Homo sapiens: one gene and its partners. The protein of the gene in region 4 interacts with the protein of the main gene of each other region in a biochemical or structural test. Each region holds a gene or a part of one and is shown on either strand. Other genes may lie near its edges.

Region 1 (3,791 bases), on a different chromosome or scaffold from region 4:
ATTTTATATTACAAATAATAATCTTGAAAAAAGATAGTTAATTGGCCAAAATAATGTTTTTCTATCTATAAAGAAACAGAAACTTAAATGTGTAAGTTACACAGAGACATAAGTCACTGTTTGAGAGCCTTTCCATCACTGTTCTAGAATCTATGGGTGATGTGATGACCCCTAGTTCCTACACAGCTCCACATGCTGTCTTCTTGAAGTTAGATGAATGTTCTTGAACCTTCCTTAGATCTGACCTTCTCAGTCATGCACTGACCTTAGAGATCTTCTGGGCTTTATTTTATGGGAAAATGTCCTTCCAATTTTTATTTACCAAGACAGAATGAGTTGTAAATGTTTTTAGTATGCAGTAGGCTATTATAAATAACATGCTTCTAAACATTCAGTTGTGCATCTGAGCTGAGCTGTTTTCTAGAAGTGATGAATTGTGTTAAGTCACCCATAAGCAGTGCAATTCCTCATGTGACGATGAAATTTTCAAAGTGGCTGGCTGGAGAGAGAGGTCTCTCTGTGATCAAAGAAAGTGGCCTGCCCCTCACAATTCCCAAATTAATACTTTTTAAACAAGCAGCATGAAAGAAAAACTTTAAAACAAGGGAAATCATCCACAATCTAGAATGCAATCTCGAATTTGGGATTCATCTGTCCCTTGCTTGATCAACTGAGCTATATGACAAGAGAAAAAGATTAAATGAAAGAAATAAGGCAGAGAAAAAGATTAAATGAAAGAAATAAGGCAGAAAAAAAGAAAAAAATGCCTATGAAAATTGGCTACAGGGGGTAGGAAGCAAGGGTGAAACATTCTAAGCGTTTCAGGAGGAAGAACTGGATCAAAACTGCAAGAATCAATATTAAGAAGTTCTATGTACACCATGTATTTGTGTTCTACGTACACCATGCAAACACAAAATACAAAGCCAATCTTTTATTCTAAGAAAATCTATAAACATGTTTATATAGCAATCTAGACTTGATCACCTCAAGAACTAGGGCATAAAAATCTTTGAACTGCCTAAAATATTTAGCCTACGACAACTTTTGTAGTCTAAGACTCTAAAGAAAATTTGATACACAAACCACATTCCAAAAATATACTTGAGACTTAGAATTTTTCTACTCTGGTTTTAAAGTTAAATACTGTATTATAAGAGTATTGAAAAGTGAAATGCCTTATTAGAACCAAAAGTGACCTATAACATAGCCAAAATTCAAATAATGTTTTGACAAATTTCTGATTTTATAATTTTCTTAATAGAAAATATTTAATTTTTGATTACCAAAATGTTTATTATGACCATGTCTGGAATATATAACCAATTCTTCTTAATTATGGCAATAAAAGGACTTGCAGGTTCATTCCATTAAACTCTTTTGAGAACCAACATATTTTATATTAACAATGGATCACTGCTTTACAGTTTATTTTTGTGTATTGATAAAGTCAATCTTAATTTCAAATTCAAACATCCCTACTGAGAGAAAACCTTCAGTTGAAAAAGCAAGAGAACAAAATTACAACATACCAACACAGTCCTCTTGTTTGTTTTCAGCTTGACATCTAAGACAGGCATCTAAAAGTAAACAAATAGCGATTCTCATTCTGATGCTCAGAATGCAATTTTTAAAAACCAGACACTTCAAAGTCAAAAGCCCTAAGGGTTAGGGATGGCAATAAAGACTCATACTATTAATTTCTCATCTGAACATAACTACTTAAAGAGGAATAAAGTACAAGGCATTCTACTAATTATAACCAGGAGCAATTTCACAAGGGTTAACAAATCCTCTATTTTTATAAGCTCTGATGAAAAGATGTCCTGACGGTGCCAAGAGAGAAAACTACTAGAGAAAAATATGCCATACTCCACTATATTCAAAGTTACCATACGCTTACTGGGCATGCTCATGGACAGTTTATTTTCAAGACACCCTTTAAATAAACCATATATATATGTTAGCATTTGTTTATACATACATCAAGAAACACTAGGATACCCAAGGAACCAATAATAAAGTTTACTGGGAGGGTTTGGAATGGGAAGGAGAGTTTTCACTCTTCCAGGTAATATACATAACTTCCTCAATTTCTGAACTATATGAATATATAACTTATAAAAAATTAAATTAAAAAATTGCTTCATAAACAAGTTTTTTAAAGTCATCCATACTTACTGACACAGAAGCCTTCCTTTAGCAACTCATAAGAAGCAACTTTTTACTTTCTACCCTAAGACACTTGAGAGTTCCTCTAAAATAAACTGCTTTGTATGCTTCCAATAGGTTGCTACCGATGGTCATCCAGACAAGGCTGGTGAGAAGCCAGTGAGACAGAGGGGACAGCGAGGGCTGTGGAGCCAGATCTACAGTCAAATCCCATTTCACTGGCATTTATTAGGTTCAGGGCCTCGGACCAATTACGAACTCCAATTCCCTCATCTGTAAAAAAGGGACAATACTGTGAGGTATTTATATATTAAGTGGGGATGATACAAACTGGTGAGAATTTTACAGATAAAATAAGTAAATACTAGATATCCCTAAACACTAAGGTTTTTTCTTTGTAAGAAAATGCTCGCCTGTAATCCCAGCACTTTGGGAGGCTGAGGCGGGCGGATCACGAGGTCAGGAGATGGAGACCATCCTGGCTAACATGGTGAAACCCCGTCTCTACTAAAAATACAAAAAATTAGCCGGGCGTGGTGGTGGGCGCCTGTAGTCCCAGCTACTCGGGAGGCTGAGGCAGGAGAATGGCGTGAACCCAGGAGGCAGAGCTTGCAGTGAGCCGAGATAGCGCCACTGCACTCCAGCCTGGGCGAAAGAGCGAGACTCCGTCTCAAAAAAAAAAAAAAAAAAAAAGAAAATGCTTGAGAGCTAAATGATGAGAACACATGGCCACATAGCAGGGAACAACACACACTGGGGCCTTTTGGAGGGTGGAAGGTGGAGAGGATCAGGAAAAATAACTAATGGGTACTAGGCTCAATACCTGGGTGATGAAATAATCTGTGCAACAAACCCTTGTGACACAAGTTTATCTATGTAACAACCCTGTACTTGTAGCCCTGAACCTAAAAGTTTTTTTAAAAAAAAAAAGAAAGAAAGAAAATACAGATAAGTCTGAGCCCAAAGTATTTACCCAACAATGGTAAAGTCTTTTAATAAATTACTTTATTACTGGTTTCTTGGGTATCCTTCTAGAATTTCTTGATGTATATATAAACAAATACTAACATTATATGTATGGGTTATTTAAAAGGGTGCCTTGAAAATAAACTGCCCATGAGCATGCCCAGTGAGCTTATAGTAACTTCTAATATAGTGGAGTAGGTGTAAATACTAAAAATGAGATCCTAAAGGCTGTACTAGAAGTTTTCAAAATTCAATCTGGAATACTATCAGCTTAATGAAAAAAGTAATATAGAATATTTTAGGGAGCAAAAATGGACTCATTCACTAGCTGGAAGAGGAGTCAGAGTTGGGTAAAAGGAAGTTTGAACCAACAGAAAATAGTTTTTAACATAAATAGGAGAAAAATAATTCTGTAAAAATAGAAACACGGTTAAGTTGAAGCCTGCTTCTCTTCTTACACTGGATTCTGCTCAGGCATTTGTTTGCTCCTTTCCACATGCTCTTACCCTTAAAAAAACACCACTGCCCTAGTCTCTTCAGTGTGGATTAAAAACAACCACTGCCTCCTGAGGTTTTCTTCAATCCCACAATTACTATCTCCTCTGTGCAAGGAGTTATGCACTGGGGACACCAAAATGACCAAGGCTGGGTCT
Region 2 (3,910 bases), on a different chromosome or scaffold from region 4:
TAAAAATAAACTCTAACTCATTAAATCTAAAATAAAACTCAATAAAACCACAAAACATTCAATAAAAAATCTAAGTCAATAAAATGACATGTTCTTACTACTCATCAAGATCTTAGATAACTGACTTAATACAATGATTTCATATAAGGTCATAAATATTTTAACTTGGTTTAAATTACAGAACGAACGGGTTTTAGTGTTTTAAATGAAAGCATCTCTTGCCAGAGTGTTTCAAAGTGTCATTTTGAAATTACAGAACTTAGAGATGAATAAGACCTTGTGTAGCCAATCTAACCAAGTCATTTTACATATGGGGGGCCTGATGAAGGATACAATGTGTATGTGACTGGCTAATGACTTTGGAAAGTGGCAGAGCTGACCTCTGGTTTGTCCCTTTTCACTGTATTAGGTTGCCTTTAGAGTAAAAACTGTTTCAATTGAAGGGACTTTAGAGATCATGTAATTCAGTGTCATTTTATTTATTTACTTATTTATTTATTTATTTTTGGAGTTAGGGTCTTGCTTTTGTGACCCAGGCTGGAGTGCAGTGGTATGATCATAGCTCACTGCAGCCTTGAACTTCTGGGATCAAGGGATCCTCTTACCTAAACCTCCCAAGAAGCTAGGACTACAGGCATGTGCCACCATGCCTGGTTAATTTTTTAAAAATTTTGTAGGGATGGGGTCTCACTATGCTGCCCAGACTGGTCTTGAACCCCTGGGCTCAAGTGATCCTCCTGCCTTGGCCTCCCAAAGTGTTGGGATTAGAGGCGTGAGCCACCACACTCAGCCACAATCATTTTATAGATGAGAAAACCTGGGTAGGATGTGGTTAAATACTGATGTATGAAAACGTTACCTCATACAGTATTTGGCATGTAGTAAGAATTCAATAAAAATCAGTTTCCTTTTTTGGCCCACCATCCATTTAGGAACCAAGATGTCCTAAAACTTTCCTAACTGTTGTTCTGTATCTTTACGTTGAATAAAAAGCCCAATAAGCAGGTATTTATTTTATAAAGTGAATATTTATGAACAGTTTATTCTGTGCAATGCGTATATAATAAATTAGTACTATTTTTGCATTGTGTATATTAAAATTATCTTAAAAGACTGCATATCAAAATATGAGTGGATTCACATATTTTCTTAATAATTAAGCAATAAATTACTAAACGTCTGAATTTTCCAAAATACCCTTTTCACAAAGGAAAGAGATGAGGATAAATAGTATCTCCTTTCCCACACTGTTATACCTCCTTACCTGTCCGTGTATGTGGCTCACATTGATGCTGGAATAAGGAAACATGAGGCACTGCTTTGAGAGCCAACACCACCTAAGGAGTCAGGGTCTAGACTGCGGTCTGCCACTTACTAAGGGATGACCTTGGCAAGTTTTACTAACCTGTAATTTCTACATCTGCAATGTGGCCATAAAGAAGTCCAATCTTATAGGATTGCTCTAGGGATCCAAAGATATGCATATATAAATAATCTGTAAAATCTTCTGTCTATACAATATTACACGGTATAGCAAAATAAATAAATAAATAAATAAATAAACAACTAGAGAATGCAGGAAATCTGCATCCTGGTTCCAGGTCATCACTGTCTTGCCATGACACCTTGGAGAAGTCACCTTTTTGTAAAAATCTGCAAGATGCAAGGATTAAATTAGATCAGTGTCTCAAAGAATCAATTTGGAGAAACAAATGTGGGGCAAAGCAGCCCAACTTTTATCCACTTTCTTAGGCTTTCAAATCTTATATCATCCTTTGGGAGGCTGAGGTGGGAGGATCACTTGAGCCCAGAAGCTCAAGGCTGCAGTGTGCTAGGATAGCACCACTGCACTCTGGTCTGGGTGACAGAGCAAGATACTCTTCCATGAAGAAAAAAAATTCATATATTGTATCACCTAAAAAAGGGGTTCTGCTGAAATGAAATAATAAAGTTTCAACAATTTCTTTGAAGACTTTTTTTTTAATTACCTTGCATCCTTCACAAGCATGAACTCCATAGTGAAATCCAGAAGCTTTATCTCCACAGACACGACATTCAATTGCCATGAGGGAGTTGGAAGGCTCTTCATGAGGCTTATTGTAGAGCTGAGTCTTCTCAGAATAATAAGGTGGAGATGCAGGCTCCACTTTGATTGCACCTGTGTATGGAGACATGTGAGAGGATAATTATCCCATGAAAACAGTCCTAAAAAGGCAACAGGGCAAGCCACCATAGTACACCTTCATGCTGTATTTGTATTGTTTCAGTGTAAAAGCACAGTGGAACATGAAAAAACACTGGAGTTAAGGCAAGAAAAAGAAAGGTTTGTAATCACAGGCAAGTTATAACATCTCTAAGCCTCACCTGTAAATATAAAATGGGAATGAGAATTAAGTCTGTGGTTCTATGACCCCCAGTAGCCTGCAATACTACAGCTGTAACAGACAACATAGAGGATTTGAGACAAGGAAGCTTATTTTGCTAGGAAATGTTCTGTCTTTGGTATTCATCACAATATTAAATTATACATTTTATTTAAATATTCCATTTTATAAGTACTTTGAAACAACTTGCAAAAGAACCACAGAAGGAACACCACTGTGAAAAGGTCATGGTATGCCTAGCTTGAGGTGCATGAAAAATATGAGCCCAGGTTACCATTAGTGTTCAGTCAAAGGAGGTGGTTTGTGAAATAATCTTTGACAGAGCGTGGCGGAACTTATGGAAGTAAGCCCTACCTTTTACTAGTTGGGCTCAGGGCTACTAAATTTCCATATTAGGCTCTAACTGAAAACCGCATAGATAAATATAACTAAGCATATTATTTATCTTTAAAAGCCACTAGAAATACAGGAAGTTCTTACTTGTCAAGTAATGATTGCCAATTACATAGTGGTGGCTTTGGAAAACCAGCATGTCAGCCCACACATGATAAAAATCAAGGAAATAGCATCACAGAAATACATTTTATCTCAAAAAGTGCAGTTCTAGTTTTTCTTGAGTCTGATGTTTTGATGTTGATTTAGTTAATGGCATGAAAATTTATCAATAGGCTACAATGTTAAAACAAATTTGTGCTTAAAAGTAGGTTTCAGTATAAACTCCTGAAAGGACATACTAGAAAAAATGTACTGTAGTAGCAGTAATATAGTGAAGATAAGTTATATAATACAAAGTGACTTGGAATTGTTACTTATTAACTTATAAGGGGCCAAAATAATTCAAAGTTTGGATGATGGACTCTTAGCCTGAGATACAACTGACAGTGTAATCAAGGTAGAAAATGTCCCTAAGAAGGAAGTAAGCAAGAAAGGAAAGAAGAGAGGAAGGAAGGAGGGGGCGGGGAAGGCAAGATTGACCTCGTGCCAGCTCCCTTCCTGGCATTTCATAGATACCTAATATTTCATGGATAAATGGGTGAATAAATGAATGGTGAATGCCTTCTCTATTAGATTTCTAGTCTCTGGAGCATTATTTATTACAGGGTTACTGAGAGATGAGTCCAATTCTAGTCCTAGTAGTCTGAAAAGTGAAAATAAACATCATACTTTGGTACTCTTGAAGTTTCAGGTCATACTTGTAATCTGCAACCACTGGATCTGTTCTTGTGAATGGAATGTCTTCGTAATGTGGAGTAGAAATGCTGGAGAAGTCAACAGTAGTGAAGGGCTTGATATCAAAGGAGTGGGAGTGGTCTTCCATTACGGAGAGATCCACGGAGCTGATCCCAAAGTTGGTGGGCCAGAATGGCATCTCTGTGTCAACCATGGTCATTTCTGAAAGGAAAAATAGACTAGCTGTGAAGTTAAGTCCTAGAGAACACAGCAATCTCACAGAGTTTCAGAAAGAGAAATGAAAAGAGTCTTTGGCAAAGTAATCTCATCTGGGCGCTCACAACAACAGAAAAGAA
Region 3 (3,910 bases), on a different chromosome or scaffold from region 4:
TAAAAGACAGTTCCACGTCATTTCCACATTCAAAATCCTAGGAGAAAAAGCCAAAGGAATATGATTGCCAACTCTTGCCATAGGCACTGGGAGTCAAATGTGAGGACAGTAGATGCAGGGAGTAGAATGTGGACAGCTTTCCAGATTGAAGTGCATCCTTCCCCAACATACAGGTAAGCTGGGCAGCATCAGTGAACATCTCAGAGAATGTCCAGCCCAAAGTCCTCCTTGCCTAAGACCCCAAAGTTGGTGGATATGAAGCAAGTAAGCAAGAGTTTTTTTTTTTTGTTTTTTTTTTTTTTGAGACAGGGTCTCACCCTGTCCCCCAGGCTGAGTGCAGTGGCACAGCTAGGGCTCACCGCAACCTCAAACTTCCAGGTTCAAGCAATCCTCCCACCTCAGCCTCCTGAGTAGCTGGGACTACAGGCATGTTCCACACCTGGCTAATTTTTAAATTTTTTTGTAGAGACAGGGTCTTGTTATGTTGCCCAGGCTGGTCTTGAAATCCTGGACTCAAGTGATCTTCCCACCTTGGCCTGCCAAACTGTTGGAATTATAGGCTTGAGCCACTGCACCTGTCCTAAAGCAGGTAATTTTAAGAAGCTCCAAGTATTTGAGTCTTGTGCCTAGACTGAGATGAAGACGAAGGAAAAGGTGGTCCAGTCCTGTCCTGAAAACTGATGAGGAGACAGGTGCAGTGGCTCACGCCTATAATCCCATCACTTTGAGCAGCCAAGGCAGGAGGATGCTTGAGGCCAGGAGTTCAAGTACAGCCTGGGTAACAGAAAGAGACCCCATCTCTACAAAAACAAACAAAAGAAACCCAGAAAGGGCAGTCTATGAATATAACAGATGAAGGAAAGCCACCGCAGGGCCTTTTCGAACTGAGTTCAGCTTGTTCAACATGTTCCCTGAGTTCGTACTCTTTCTGATACACATGTCTGCATAATCTGGGACCGACAGAGCTTAGCGACCAGTGGGGAATGAGACAAGGACACTCTATCATAATTCAGTAAGATGACCTACCTAGAAGCAAGTTTCTGAGGTTTCTCAGTTGCTTGTATATAAGCCTAGCAGTGACAGAACACAAGGTCAGATTGGCTGAGGCATAAAAGATGAGGGGGAAGTAATTCAGGAACAGCTGAAGAGCCATGCAGGGACCACATTCATTTATTCTGTAACAACTACTTATTGAATTGCTAAAGTTAGTAATTAAGATCCCCCCTCTTTTTGTTGAGACGGAATTTCACTCTTGTTGCCCAGGCTGGAGTGCAATGGCGCAATCTCGGCCCACCACAACCTCCGCCTCCTGGGTTCAAGCGATTCTCCTGCCTCAATTAGCTGGGATTACAGGCATGTGCCACCACGCCCGGCTAATTTTGTATTTTTAGTAGACGGGGTTTCTCCATGTTGGTCAGGCTGGTCTCGAACTCCTGACCTCAGGTGATCCACCCGCCTCAGCCTCCCAAAGTGCTGGGATTACAGGTGTGAGCCACTACGCCTAGCCTATGATCCCATTTTAGAAGGTGGATGGCTTCAGTTCTACCATTTACTAACTTGTGGCCTTGGTTAAGTTATTTCATCTTGTTTCTTTATCAAAAAAAGGGGGGCGGGGTAATAATATTTTATACAGCCTATGTTTATTCTAACTGTTAAATGGGCTAGTACATTTAATACACAGTGAGCACACAAGGAATGTGAGCTATCACTGCAAAATGTCAGGCACTGTGCTAGAAATAAGGGGCTGGGACTGAAGTGGTGGGAGGGGACACGGCCTACCTCGGCATGTGAGGGACTCTAATTTACCGCAGGAATTTGAACTTGATGCTGGTGGCAGAGCAGAGTGTCTGACTTATTTTGAATAGAGGAGCAGCCTGCTCAAAACTGTGTTTTGGAAACATTGCTTTGGCTGCAGGATACGAGAGGCTCTTTTTTTTCTTAGTGTTTTTTTGCCTTTTTAAAATTTATATTTTTAAAACGTTTGTTAAATATTTTTCTAAATGCCCATCTCAGAGAAGAAAAGGCTCAAAACTTGAGATTAGATAGCAGACTGAAGCAAAATACACGGTTCGCTTTCTGATATGAAAGTATAATTTCTTTCTCTATTCAGGTGACCACCTTGGGAATTGCCCTTCAAGAAGCGACAGAAGCACCCTCCCTTGAGGAGCTTCCTCATTAACCTCCTCAGTGCTCACAGGGCACAGCTCTGTGTCAGAGGCCCTCATGCCTGTTCATCTCTAAGCATGCACCCACGTCAAGACCATGGAGAGCGGCTGGATGTGGTGGTTCACGCCTGTAATCCCAGCATTTTGGGAGGCCGAGGTGGGCAGATCATGAGGTCAAGAGATCAAGACCATCTTGGCCAACATGGTGAAACTCCGTCTCTACTAAACATACAAAAATTAGCTGGTCATGGTGGCGAGTGCCTGTAATCCCAGCTACTCAGGAGGCTGAGGCAGGAGAATCACTTGAACTAGGGAGTTGGAGGTTGCAGTGAGCCGAGATCATGTCACAGCACTCCAGCCGGGCAACAGCAAGACTCCTTCTCAAAAAAAAAAAAAAAAAAAAGACCATGGAGAGCAGGTATGACTGTTGGTGTTAGTTAGCCTTCCTTATGGCCACCAGCTTCACTATAGGAACTTCCCATAATGCACAGAAACCGGCGCCCTCAACCAACCCATCTACCACCAACAGAGCCATCTGTCCAAAAGGCAAGTGGAGTTGTGTTGTTGTTCCTGCTGAAACACTCCTGTGTCAGTCCCAGGCCTAAAGACCCAAACTCCTGAAGCCTGGCATAATTCAGAGCCTGCCATTTTTATAGCCTGGTGTCTCACACCTCTTTCTGTTGTCCCTAGGCTCTAAGTATCATACTCTTTATGGTTTGCTGAAATGGGTTATTCTGTTCTCCACTTGGAAGGCTGTTTTACCTTTTTGTTTTGCAAATTGAGGACTTGATATTTGACACCAATGTCCTCCCCTCTTGTTCCAGGAGACCAATGATTTTTACACCCCCACCAACTCCTCACCCTGAGCCTTTTTAAAGTTGTGGTATCTTCTGAACAAAGAAAACTATATAAGGAATCTTAAGACTGGATGCAGAGATGTTCTGGTTGAAGCAAGAGTCAAGGCCTAGAGTTCCATACTGCCACATACCAAAAGAACCTCATACTCTGAAAGAACAGACTTTGGCAAACACTGTCACACAGTGACAAGTTAAATTACTGCAACCTGTTTGGAGTGTAGTCTTGGTGGTAGCTATGAAAATTTAAAAATATACCTTTGACTTAGAATCTAACTTTCAAGAAGGAATACAACTACATTCCCACAAGAATGCAAAATTCTATGTGCAAAATGCTCATGCCAGCACGGAAAATGTGCTCCAATGGGGAAGTAGGAGTGGCTAAATTGCACAGGAGATCCATATGTGGGGCTACAAAAAGATCTCCAAGTTACTCCAGTAAATGGAAAAAAGACAAGCCGCATTTATCTGTTCCAGGAAACAACTTTCACAGCCACTAACAGGAAGACGGGCTAAATTAAAGCAGGGTACCCAAACCCCTGCATCAGAATACTAGACAGCCATTACAGTCACTAAATACAAAGCTGCAAAAGTAACGACATGTCCACCAAAGGGAGGCGCTAGGTTAAATCAATTATGGTACAGTCATACAATGACTACAGACAATATAAAAGTACAAAGAAGCTCTCTTGGTAGTACCATAAAAAGATCCCCACCAAGGCCGGGCATGGTGGCTCACGCTTGTAATCTCAGCACTTTGGGAGGCCAAGGAGGGCAGATCACCTGAGGTCGGGAGTTCGAGACCAGCCTGACCAACATGGTGAAACCCTGTCTCTACTAAAACTACAAAATTAGCCGGGCATGCTGGCGCATGCCTGTAATCCCAGCACT
Region 4 (5,284 bases):
AGCACTTTTACAGATATTTTCTGTTCTCAAATCCTTCCAAAACAAATCAGCAATTCAAGTACTTCATGGCACAGAAGCTTCAGTCTTCATAGAGTGACGTACAGACTGCAAAGCTGAAGACACTATAAAATTCTGTAGAATTGCGCTGTTGCATACCTCAGTATTATGGCAAGCCTTACATGAGCAAAATCACAGTTCTTTCACTGTGGCTGATGTCATTTTCAGGTAGCCAAAATCATATATTTAGGGGGAAAAAAACTGAAGCATTCCCTTAGAGCCATGTATCAAAATTATGTTTTCTTTAGCTACGGTACAGTAAGAACTGGTCTTCTGACTAGCCTGAGCTCATGTCGCATTAAATAAACAGTAATTTTATTATTAAATATTTGAACAAAATTCTTGATCTGATAGACTGGTTATATTAAATGCAAATAATTAGAATAATATAAATGACTGGGGTAAGGGTGTTCAATCTGATTTTTTTTAATTTTAATTTCTGTGGGTCCCTAGTAGGTATATATGTTTGTGGGGTACATGAGAGGTTTTGATACAGGCATGCAAGGCATAATAATCACATCATGTAAAATGGGGTATCCATCCTCACAAGCCTTTATCCTTTTTGTTACAAACAATCCAATTATAGTCTTCTGGTTGTTTTTAAATGTACAATTAAATTATTATTGACTGTAGTCACCTGTTAAGCTATTAAATACTAGGTCTTATTCATTCTTTCTGTTTTTTTTAATACTCATTAACCGTCCAATCTGATTTATTGTACCTCTCCTAAGCTCAGACAAATCTTTACTATTACCTTTTTCAGGACAGGCCCATGACTGTATATTACGAAAAACAGATACCATTACTAATAGATATGTAATTCCTAAACCATTAAGCTTTTCATTATAAAGTTCTTACACCATCTTTCATTCTGCCCTTCACATTCATGCATGGAGTACTCTACTCCTGGCTTAAGACCAATTCTAGAAAATGTACTATCTGATTCACAAAGATGTATGTATGTGTAACTCTATTACTCTTATAATAACATGGCAAAATAATACAATGAAATAATCTATGAAGCGCTCTGATATTTATTCATTCAACAAATATTTTTGAGTACCTATATGTGTTGGACATTATCCTAGACATAGTGACAAACTAAAATATCAAATCAGACATGTTATACCTTTTCACAAAACCTTAAACTCCGTAAGGTACTCTAAATATACCAGTCTGCCTACCCATGATTGAATCTTTGCATGTTGAAATAGCCTTTGGTCAAAGACAATAAATTTTTTTATTGATGTAATGTAGATTTTTTTCCCAATGATCACAGAATCTTTGACAATCATTTTAACTACTTAAGACATGGATGATGGCTTTTTATACTTCCAATATAGGGACAACCTAACAGATGCTGAGAATGGCAACATTCAACTGCAAGCACAACGTGCATTTACCACCAGGCGGCAGATATCCGAGGAAACAGAAAGTGTTGACAACCGAGAGTCTTCCGAGGTATAAGTAGTTTCCTAGTTCTCCTTGAAAGACACATGCTATAGCAATAAAGTATGTGTGGCTCAAGCTTATTCTGTTCATTTTAGAACTGGGAAATTATAAGAGAAGATGAAGCCACCATGTATAGCAACCAGGCCTTCCCATCACCTCCACCGTCAAGTAACTTGGATGTTCCAACTCATCTTGCAGAAGAATTGAATGCCAGACTCACCATTTTTGGAAATTCAGCCGTGAGCCAGCCAGCATCGAGCTCAGTAAGATGCTCTTAGATTTTGTTACGGCTTCAGTAGTTTATATTATGCATATTATACTATTCAACAACTAACTTTTATGTAAAATTTTGTCTTAAATGCAATAATATGTAATAATACATTAGGGACCTTGGGACTTTACAACATGGTCATTTTTCAAATATCCTCATTAGTAGTATGGACCAGAGTCATGGCATCCAAATTTCCATTATGTCAGTGCCCTCCAGTCAAAAATCACTAGGGACACATTTGTCATTGAACAAGTTGGGTTTATTATTCATTTCAGCAAGGGAGAACACGCACCATTGGTGTTTTGGTAGCAGAATGTTAGAAAAGACTTCAGGGATTTGGGCTCCTGTTAGGTGATTTTGAAGAGGGTTTTAGGAAGCAGGACTTTGCTCTACATGAGATGCTGTTGGGAAGCAGGGATAATTCTATGATTTTGTATCTCAAATCTTATCTGTAGTGAGGCTAAAGCTATGATTAGCAAAGTAGAACAGTCACTCACATTTGCCAGGATGGGGAAATGTTTGGTATTTTGTGGCTTGGACAATGTTCATGTTTTGTCTATATTCAGCCACGATTACAGAGTGGTCTTGATTTTGTCTTGATCTTACCTATGAGTGCCAGGCCAGCTCTTGGATGTTAGGGACTGCTTTTCTCTCTCCCAGTTATGCTGAAGTTGGTTTTTTGTTTGCTTGTTTGTTTGTTTGTTTTGAGACATCTCACTCTGTCACCTAGACTGGAGTGCAGTGGTGCTATCTCGGCTTACTGCAAACTCCGTCTCCAGCTTCAGGCGATTCTCATGCCTCAGCCTCCTGAATAGCTGAGATTACAGGCGCACACCACCACGCCCAGCTAATTTTTGTATTTTTAGTAGAGATGGAGGAGTTTCACCCTGTTGGCCAGGCTAGTCTTGAACTCCTGGCCTCAAGTGATCCACCTGCCTCAGACTCCCAAAGTGCTGGGATTACAGGCATGAGCCACTGCTTCTGGCCTGAAGTTTTAACATTATATCACAGATGTCACCAACAGGTATATATGAATAAGAACTGATATACTTTGACTAAACAAGGAGATAGATGACATTTTCACTTCAGCCACCACTGTAAAAACTGTTGTCCATAGGGTTCAGAATAAAGTATCCCAGCATATGCTTCCACGATGAGAACTTCATAGCTAGCTGTCTAATATGTATCATCAAGGGAGATTGAGTAGAAGACAAAGATTATTCTCTGAGGATGCTATTTGTCATTTCCAGTTGAGGTTTCCCTGCCTTTCATTTAGTTAGTAAATATTTAATGAGAGCTGATCACATATATGCAGAGTACTATATGCTAGTTACTGAGGATACATCAGTCAATAAAATTAACAATATCTCCTGCCTTCATGGGACTTACATTCTAGTGCAGAGGAAAGCAAACTACAACCGGTGGGCCAAATCAGCAGCTGCCTGTTATGAATAATTACCATTGGAATACAGCCACATCATTTGTTTTGGTATTGCCCATCTCTGCTTTCACACGACATCATCTGAATAAAGTAGTTACAGCAGCAACCATATGGCCCACAGCCAGTATTTACTGTCTGGATCTTAACAGGAAATGTGTGCTAACCTCTGCTCTAGCATCTTCTTCAAGAAGCTTCACAGTAGATAGTTGTACGTGAATATGAATATCTGCCAGTAAATCCGCCTGCCTGCCTCCTGCCCTTCCTTTCTTCCATTTGTCTGTTCTGTCTTCCATTCATTTCATTTTTTCACAGGGGAGTGGGACAGGTCAGTCAAAGACCTAAACTACATTAGGCCAGGCGTGGTGGCTCACGCCTGTAATCCCAGCACTTTGGGAGGCTGGGATTATAGATGGGTTGAAGTCAGGAGTTCAAGACCAGCCTGGGCAACATGGCGAAACCTTGTCACTACTAAAAATACAAAAATTAGCTCGGTGTGGTGGTGCACACCTGTAATCCCAGCTACTTGGGAGGCTGAGATTGGAAGAATGGCTTGAACCCAAGAGGCAGAGGTTGCAGTGAGCCGAGATTGCACCATTGCACTTCAGCTTGGGTGACAGAGTGAAACTCCGTCTCAAGAAAAAAAAAAGAATAAACCATATTGATTTGCTGATGATAAATCACATACGATCCCATTCCCCTTCTTCCTGGTATTTTTTTTACTTAAAGTAATACATGGCAACCATATAGTGTAATACTATGCAGCCATTGAAGAGAACAAGGTGGGCTCGAGTGTATATGTTGGATGGAACAATCCCTAAGAGATGCTGGTAAATGAAAAACAGCAAGGTACAGAACAGTGTGTTTGTTACACCAGAATTTATGTAAATTATTTAAATGCAGAGCATAAATATGTGTATAATTTACTCGAGGACTAAACAGGAAACTAATAACTTTGCTTGCCTCTGAAGAGAGGCAAAGAATGAGCAGGATATATATTGTTTGTACCTTTTGTTTTTTTGAGATAGGGTCTCACTCTGTCGCCCAGGCTGGAGTGCAGTAGCATGATCATAGCCCACTGCAACCTCAAATTTCTGGGCTCAAGGGATTCTCCCACCTCAGCCTCTGGAGTAGCTGGTACTACAGGCACATGCCATTGTACCCCTGCTAATTTTTTTAAAAAATTTTTGTAAAGACTTGGTATAGTATTGTTTCCCAGGCTCCTTTTGAATTTTATAACATGTATGAGTGTTACCTATTTTAAAAAATATTTTTAAAGCACTGTATGGTTATGGTTACAAATTGAGATTGTATTTAGGTATATAAAATAAAATTTAAGACTGGGCATCTTGGCTCACACCTGTAATCCCAGCACTTTGAGAGGTCAAGGCAGGCAGATCACATGAGGTTAGGAGTTCGAGACCAGCCTGGCCAACATGGCGAAACCCCGTCTCTAATACAAAAATTAGCCGAGTGCAGTGGCGTGTGTCTGTAATCCCAGCTACTCGGTAGGCTGAGGCAAGAGAATTGCTTGAACCTGGGAGGTGGAGGTTGCAGTGAGACAAGATCGCACCACCATACTCCAGCCTGGGCATCAGAGCAAGACTCTGTCTCAAAAAAATAAATAAATAATAAATAAAAATTAAACCTTCTATCTTACCACTAATATATGCTCCCTCAGTTACTATTAGTGGTCAAAGACCTAAAGAATAAATGATACTGATTTGCTGGTGATAAATCACATGCATACATATATAGAAACTTTTTCTGTATATTCATAAACATGCATGCATACACATATATTTGTAGATGATTTTTTAACCTGAGATCATCTTAAACATACTTTTTGGTAACTTGCTTTTTTCACTTGCTGTCTCTTAGACATTGAACCATTTCAGTACAGATAGATGTACTCCTTTAAAAACCAACTAAAACAGTCATTAAACTCTGGCATATTCCATTGTACAAGTAACCCTTAAGGCATTTCACCAGTCTCCTATTGAAAGACTTTAGATTGTTTACAGTACTATTATAAACAGTACTACAGTGGATATTCTGATTCAATT

The links. The genes of interacting proteins can lie anywhere in the genome.
Region 1: the proteins of NEDD4 (region 4) and RNF7 form a complex in vitro, tested with the Homo sapiens proteins (2 studies listed by BioGRID, with this or other methods).
Region 2: of the proteins of NEDD4 (region 4) and PPARG, one has a biochemical effect on the other in vitro, tested with the Homo sapiens proteins (2 studies listed by BioGRID).
Region 3: the proteins of NEDD4 (region 4) and HNRNPUL1 form a complex in vitro, tested with the Homo sapiens proteins (2 studies listed by BioGRID, with this or other methods).

The regions. Positions count from the first base shown.
Region 1 is NC_000003.12:141,741,298-141,745,088, reverse strand, and holds part of RNF7 (RING-box protein 2), read right to left. Parts: intron 2,446-3,791; exon of another isoform or gene 2,182-2,445; intron 1,581-2,181; coding exon 1,533-1,580; exon of another isoform or gene 1,532-1,532; intron 1-1,531. UniProt on the Homo sapiens protein: Catalytic component of multiple cullin-5-RING E3 ubiquitin-protein ligase complexes (ECS complexes), which mediate the ubiquitination and subsequent proteasomal degradation of target proteins.
Region 2 is NC_000003.12:12,379,570-12,383,479, reverse strand, and holds part of PPARG (peroxisome proliferator-activated receptor gamma), read right to left. Parts: intron 3,777-3,910; coding exon of another isoform or gene 3,769-3,776; coding exon 3,549-3,768; intron 2,159-3,548; coding exon 1,989-2,158; intron 1-1,988. UniProt on the Homo sapiens protein: Nuclear receptor that binds peroxisome proliferators such as hypolipidemic drugs and fatty acids.
Region 3 is NC_000019.10:41,288,372-41,292,281, reverse strand, and holds part of HNRNPUL1 (heterogeneous nuclear ribonucleoprotein U-like protein 1), read right to left. Parts: intron 38-3,910; coding exon 1-37.
Region 4 is NC_000015.10:55,856,895-55,862,178, reverse strand, and holds part of NEDD4 (E3 ubiquitin-protein ligase NEDD4), read left to right. Parts: intron 1-1,400; coding exon 1,401-1,518; intron 1,519-1,604; coding exon 1,605-1,772; intron 1,773-5,284. UniProt on the Homo sapiens protein: E3 ubiquitin-protein ligase which accepts ubiquitin from an E2 ubiquitin-conjugating enzyme in the form of a thioester and then directly transfers the ubiquitin to targeted substrates. Specifically ubiquitinates 'Lys-63' in target proteins.